Homo sapiens: one gene and its partner. The protein of the gene in region 1 purifies or fractionates together with the protein of each later gene. This does not show direct contact. Each region holds a gene or a part of one and is shown in the gene's direction. Other genes may lie near its edges.

Region 1 (3,920 bases):
AATATTTATTTAAAAAAGGTAGTGTCTGGGCTGGGTGCGATGGCTCATGCCTGTAATCTCAGCACTTTGGGAGGCTGAGGCGGGTGGATCATTTAAGGTCAGGAGTTCAAGACCAGCTTGACCAACATGGTTAAACTCCGTCTCTACTAAAAATACAAAAATTAGCCAGGTGTGGTTGTATGTAATTGTAATCCCAGCTACTCAGGAGACTGAGGCAGGAGAATTGCTTGAGCCCGGGAGGCGGAGGTTGCAGTGAATCGAGATCGTACCACTGCACTCCAGCCTGGGCGATGGAGGGAGACTCTGTCTCAAAAAAAAAAAAAAAAAAAAAAAAAAAGTAGTGTCTGTCATATTAGGGATATTTTTCTCAATTTGATTTTTACCTTCAACATCCACTTAATACACATTTATCTGAATCTCCCCCATGTGCCAGGCACTAGTCTAATCATCAAGGATGAAATAGACACAGTCCCTGCCCTTAAGGATCTTACAGTCTAACAGAGGGAAGCTGGCAGATAAACAGTGACTGCAATAAAATTTTCACATCCTCCACCAGAAGTACAAATAGCTATAGCGGATGCACTAAAAGATGTGAGTGACCAATTGGACATGTAGGGGCCAGGAATAGGCTTCAGAGACGATTCTTAACTAAGAATAAAAAGCTTTACTAGAGTGACAAGGGACAAAGTAGGAAAGGCATTCCAAGTAGAGGAACACCTAAAGATAGGGCGAGAGAGCTGGTTAGTGGATTTGGGTTTGGCTTCAATATTTGGGTTTGAGGAGTAAAATGTCAAGAAAATCCAGTGGAAGAAGGGGCTGGAGAGACCTCAGAAGTCACATAATTTAAAAAATTATACATAACTTTTTGAGTAAGCTTTCCCTTTCTGATCTTACATAATGTTTAAGATAAAAAAAAAATCCTTCCTAGCCCCAGAGATTTGATGTTTACCTTCATTTTCTTCTAGTTTCTGTTTACATTTAACTAATCTATCAGGAGTTGACTTTGGCATATAATGGCAAGCTTCATTTGAATCTTATTTTTTCTGTTTTAATGTTTATCTGTGTGGTTCACTAAGCTTCTTTCTGTAACCTTATTTTGCTAATGGGTAAAAACAGGGGGTGTTAAATATCTAATAAAGAGTATTTATGCCCAGGTGGGGACAATGCTAAGAACAACAAAAGAAATTTCACTGGTGTTTTCTATTTTAATACTTAAATACCAAAAGGGAGCTGTGCCAAACATCACGGGTGCAGATATGCAGGCTTTTAGGGTCCTGGCTCTCAGAATACCACTACTACTTTGTATTCATAGACTGAAATTTTTTGAGGAGCCAACCATGTTTCCACAAACAGTAATTTATTCAAACGATAACTGAAGAGGGGAGAGGGAGGATAAATATATCATTGCCTGCTTCATTTGTTTACTACTACCAGAAATTAGGTGGAGTCAGGCTTCCTCCCCTGATGCTGGCTGGAGATTGAGTGGGGTTGGCATCTCTGTGCTGTACAGGCCAGACACTGAGACAGTTGACAACTGAGAGCTGTGATTGGTTAGAAAGGCAAAAGTAACCCGACCAGATTGGCTCTGGACTCCCCCAGATTCCCCTGTTGTTACTTCATAGCATTCTGAAGACCTGTCCACCAATTACAGGGCTCCTTACTGGAAAAACCAACTGCTGGGGAGTGCCAAGAGTCCCTAGCAACACCCTGCAGCGTTTGAAATCTGAGGGGAAAAGACTGTAGTCAGCCCTTAGTGGATGAGAGCGCCTATGCTCCAGAAACAGCAGGCTCCCAGGATGGACACCCCGCCCCCTGAAGAACGCTTAGAGAAGCAAAATGAAAAACTGAACAACCAGGAAGAGGAGACGGAGTTTAAGGAACTGGACGGTCTGAGGGAAGCCTTGGCAAACCTCCGGGGACTGTCAGAGGAGGAGAGGAGCGAGAAGGCTATGCTTCGCTCCCGCATTGAAGAGCAGTCCCAGCTCATCTGCATCCTGAAGCGGAGGTCAGATGAGGCCCTGGAGCGCTGCCAGATCCTAGAGCTGCTCAATGCAGAGCTGGAGGAGAAGATGATGCAGGAGGCTGAGAAGCTCAAGGCCCAGGGTGAGTACAGTCGGAAACTAGAGGAACGCTTTATGACCCTAGCAGCCAACCACGAGTTGATGCTCCGCTTCAAGGATGAATACAAGAGTGAGAACATCAAGCTGAGGGAGGAGAATGAGAAGCTGAGGCTGGAGAATAGCAGCCTCTTCAGCCAGGCTCTGAAGGATGAGGAGGCGAAAGTATTACAGCTCACAGTCCGGTGTGAGGCCCTCACTGGGGAGCTAGAAACGCTGAAGGAGAGGTGTGCTCAGGATGCCTGCCAGGCACAGGCGCGCGAGAAGGAGCTGCTGGAGCTACAGAGCCAGCAGGCCTGCACCCACACCAAGGAGACAGAACAGCTGCGCAGCCAGCTGCAGACCCTCAAGCAGCAGCACCAGCAGGCTGTGGAGCAGATAGCTAAGGCAGAGGAGACACACAGCAGCCTGAGCCAGGAGCTGCAGGCCAGGCTGCAGACCGTCACTAGAGAGAAAGAGGAGTTGCTGCAGCTGTCCATTGAAAGGGGCAAAGTGCTTCAGAACAAACAGGCAGAGATCTGCCAGCTTGAGGAAAAGTTGGAGATAGCAAATGAAGACAGGAAGCATGCGCTGGAGCGGTTTGAGCAAGAGGCAGTGGCTGTGGACAGCAACTTGAGAGTCAGGGAGCTTCAGCGCAAAGTAGATGGGATCCAGAAGGCCTACGATGAACTCAGGCTGCAGTCTGAAGCCTTCAAAAAGCACAGCTTGGATCTTTTAAGCAAGGAGAGAGAACTCAATGGCAAACTCCGCCATCTCTCTCCATAGGGAAGTTTCTGCTTCCTCTGGCCTGCAATTCAGAATTCAAATATTTGCGTCTTAGCATTATGGCAAGAGTAAAGATGATATCCCATTTATTATACTTTCAAGCACAAAAGGCAACTCAAAGAAAAGCTACTTTACTATGATATTGTTGTTATTATTGTAAAGCCATTATTAATTTTCATTTCTACACCTAGAATACACAAGATTTGCCAGATTTCCTTCTGTGCCTTAGAAATCTTAAATTTACTAGTAGTATCTTCTCCTACCCATAAGTTATTAATTCTCAACCTCAGATATCTTCATTTATGTTAGGATTTTAAATTAGCAGCTTCTATGATTTAAGTCAATCTAAGTGCAGTGAGATGTGCCATTGTGAAAAATAATTAGCACAATTACCCACTGTAGATAGTTAGGCTTATAGTCTCCCATAGTTGAGATTGTAAGCAAACATGTATCAGCATAATAGCATGAATGCTTTGCAGAAAAAAAAAAGTGTCTGACTTTATTTTATTTTGCGCTAGCTTGGAAAATGATTGAGATCAAGTTCTTTAACAAAGAAGGTCAATTTTATTCTGTATGAGCAATATGATTCAAATAAGTTATACAAAACAACTTTTATTTTTTCTGCAAGCTTAGATAATATTCCATTTTTTGGTTTTCTCTTTAAAAAGAGGATTTAGATGTGCAATAATGCAAATATCAGTAGCTTAATTTAATATTGCACGATATGCTAATAGACAATTAGACAATTTGGGGTAACAAATCATAGCAGACGTGATCTATAGAGTAACTCAGAAATTGTTTTGTTTCTATTAGCATATTTTTTGTAATTAAGATTTTCCTTTTTTAAAAAAATCTAAGCTGAACGTGTGTATGTATGCTTGCAGCATTTTTGTAGTAATACCTACATTTTGTAAGAATAGTTATAAAAACATGATATATATATATGTAAAGTTCTTAAAAAAGTTCTCAAAGGTAGTTATATTTTCTTATCTTCCTGTAATTAGGTATTGATATATAAACATTATTATGAATACCTCT
Region 2 (3,571 bases), on another chromosome or scaffold:
CATGTCACGCTTCTCAGAATGACTATTATTAAAAAGTCTAAAAATAACAGATGCTCGTGAGTTTGTGGAAGAAAAGGAACATTTATACACTGTTGGTGGGAGTGTAAGTTAGTTCAACCACCGTGGAAGACAGTGTGGCAATTCCTCAAAGACCTAAAGACCATTTGACCCAGCAGTCCCGTTACTTGGTATATACTTAAGGGAATATAAATTGTTCTGTTGTAAAGATGCATGCATATGTTCATTGCAGCACTATTCACAATAGCAAAGACATGGAATCAAGCTAAATACAATAGCAAAGACATGGAATCAACCTAAATGCCCATCAATGATAGAGCAGATAAAGAAGATGTGGTACATACACACTATGGAATACTCTGTAGCCGTAAAAAATAATGGGATCATGTCCTTTGCAGAGACATGGATGGAGCTGGAGGCCCTTATCCTTAGCATATTAATGCAGAAACAGAAAACCAAATACCACTTGTTCTCACTTGTAAGTGGGAGCTAAATGATGAGATCACATGGACACATAGAGGGAAACAAAACACATTGGAGCCTTTCAGAGGGTGGAGGGTAGGAGGAGGTTCAGGAAAAATAACCAATGGGTACTAGGCTTAATACCTGGGTGATGAAATAATCTGCACAACAAACCCCCATGGCACACATTTACTTGTGTAACAAACCTGCACATGGACCCCTGAACTTAAAAGTTAAAAAATAAATAATTGTGGGAGGAAAACATTGAAGTGTTTCTTACATATTTTTCTCTATGCAGAAGAAAGCTGTGGTGATTCGTCACTTGTATAATGAAGATAATGTTGACATTTCTGAGGATACATTAAGTCCAATAACAGATGTTAATGAAGCAGTTGATGTGTCTGACTTAAATGCTACTGAAATAAAGATGCCTGAAGTAAAGGTTCCTGAAATCAAGGCTGAGCAACAGGTAACAACTTTGGACTTTTTAAATAGATGCCAGTATTTTTTACTTAAATATGTGTAATTATTTCAGCCTCTAAACTTTGGAATATTTCTAGCCTTTTGAATTATTAATCATGACATTTTATCTATGTTACAATTACTGAAGTGTCAATAAGTCTTACTAAAATAATTCAACAAATATTTGCTGCATATGTGTAGGGTGCTGGGCTAAGTGTTGGGGTGATGCAAAGTAGAATAAGATATGGTACTTGGCTTTAAGGAATCTACAATTTAGTGAGACATAGCGATATGCTACTTTGCATAGTGGAGGTTCTCTACCACCTATTTTCTTTATTGGTGAATGGAAAAGATTGGCACTTTATTGCCTATTCATTTTCCTTTCTGGGTCCCTGCTGTTATTTTCTGTCTCTCTTAAAAAACCATTTCTATTACTCTTAATTGCCACAGACCCCAATATGTCTGATCTCTACTGTTTCTGCTAAGACTTCTTTTTCTGTGTTTCTATGTCTTGTGATTTCTATATATCTCAGTATATCAATATACAGTTGGCACTTACAAAAACTACCAGATGGCCATTGGACCTACTTCCTGTTATATGGCAAACCGAACAATCTCAATGCACTAAGTGTTGTTTTTGGTCATTTCCTCTTAGCTTTGTGCTAAGCGTTGTTTCAAGAAGCTAGTTAATAATAGTTTTATTTTACTAGCTGGTATTAAGAGAATCATGCAAATTAACTCATTATCAGAAGAATCATATGAAATAGATACTGCTCTTATCTCTTTTTTTTTAATGAGGAAATGGAGGCATCAAGATCATAAATCTCAGAACTGGTTTAAGTGGCCAAGTAGTCTCCATCCAGAGATAGCTCTCTTAACTCTCAAGCAGGACGGTCTCTCCTAACTGTTGAGATAACGCTGTGGAAGTGAGAATACATTAATTTTAAAGAAATTTCAGTTTGTTTAATTTTATTTTTAATCTCTCTAACCTTTTTAGGATGTAAATGTTAATCCTGAGATTACTGCACTACAAACTATGCTTGCTGAATGCCAAGAAAATCTTAAGAAACTGACTTCGATAGAGAAAAGGTTAGACTGTTTGGAACAAAAAATGAAAGGAAAAGTGATGGTAGATGAAAACACCTGGACTAATCTTCTTAGTCGTGTCACTCTTCTTGAAACAGAAATGCTTTTGTCTAAAAAGGTATTTTCCTCCTTTAACATTTATAAAATATCTCAGATATAACAAAGTTTTTTTTTGATTGTTATATGTGTATTTTTTTGGAAATGCTAAATATGAGAATATTTGAATAATGAGAAAATGTCTAGTTAGAATGAAGTCCTGTTTAAATATAGCCTGTATGTTGTTGTGGCTGTTGTTTCTCTCTTCATTGAATAAGATAATCTGAAAAACTTGTCAGTTGAGCTTTTACAGATGTTAATAATGCTTGAAGAATTTAAAATGAGGTAAGAATATGATAGATATGAAAAGCTTAAAATTATTTTATATCTTTTAATAGTACAAATAACCTATTTTCATAGGGTAGAAAAGATACAGAAGATATAGGTAACTCTTCCCATCTTTTTTTCACTCATTTACTTCAATCATATTGTGAATTTCATAGAATAGTTACCAGATTTACCATTGCCTTATCAAATCTGAGAAATTTGTTTTTTTTTACTCAGGATTTCAATTTCTGGTCTGTCTTTCCTTCCTAGAAGGTGAAGTCAAGTAGCTTGCTATCTGCTTCCATATTTAAAACATTTCTTATATGTAGGAATATGCAGTATATGTATTGCTTTAATAAAAAATTAAAAATATTTAAACATTTATCATGCTACCTTTATATTTTATGCTCAGCATTAAGAATATAAAATGAGAGGGTTTTTCTTTTTATTTCATTCTAAATATTTAACTGTGTTATTCCAGAATGATGAATTTATAGAGTTTAATGAAGTTAGTGAAGACTACGCTTCTTGTAGTGACATGGACCTTCTGAATCCTCGTAAGTTTGTAAATACTATGAGAATTGGTATGATGAGTTTTCAGAAAAATGATTGTTATAGTAATTTTAATATTCTTAAGCTTTATTGTTTAGAAATTGCAAAGCTCCTAGAACAAAGAACATAATGAACCTACAGACTACTAAAGCCAAGAATTGCTTAACTAACCAGCCTACTTATTTCACATAACATAGTGGGTGAATAAATTTCAGTGTACAAAATTGAAAATTTTTAGAGATATTTTACTGTTTTAATCATTCGAGAATAATCAAGTGCTCTAGGATATTAATGTTGGCCTCCAAGTTTTTAAATTTAAGCTTAGGTAGGTAGTAGCTTTCTCATATGTAAATAATAATATGTAAGAGAAGAAAACACATTTGTCAGTATCTATAAAGTATTGCAAACTTCTTCCATGTGAATAGTTCACTGATAATGATAAAATGGGAAAGATCTGATATTAGGATAGGTCTTTTCCTGGTCACTTTACTAGGCTACTGATATTTTGCTTAGTGTGACTGAGCAGCAAGGGTAAGATTTCTGTTTTTCAGTGACAGCTTTGTTTTGATTGTTATGTATTTTTAAAAGATCTAAATTTTGTGCCATATCTATGATTAAATCATAGCTA

Evidence for each region. Proteins that work in one complex are often made in the same cells at the same time.
Region 2: the proteins of CCDC89 (region 1) and CEP44 purify together in Homo sapiens (co-immunoprecipitation; 3 studies listed by BioGRID and IntAct, with this or other methods). This does not show direct contact.

Annotation. Positions count from the first base shown.
Region 1 is NC_000011.10:85,683,968-85,687,887, reverse strand, and holds the start of CCDC89 (coiled-coil domain-containing protein 89), read left to right. Parts: upstream 1-1,692; 5' UTR 1,693-1,757; coding exon 1,758-2,882; 3' UTR 2,883-3,920.
Region 2 is NC_000004.12:174,307,911-174,311,481, forward strand, and holds part of CEP44 (centrosomal protein of 44 kDa), read left to right. Parts: intron 1-778; coding exon 779-949; intron 950-1,939; coding exon 1,940-2,146; intron 2,147-2,872; coding exon 2,873-2,948; intron 2,949-3,571. UniProt on the Homo sapiens protein: Centriole-enriched microtubule-binding protein involved in centriole biogenesis. In collaboration with CEP295 and POC1B, is required for the centriole-to-centrosome conversion by ensuring the formation of bona fide centriole wall.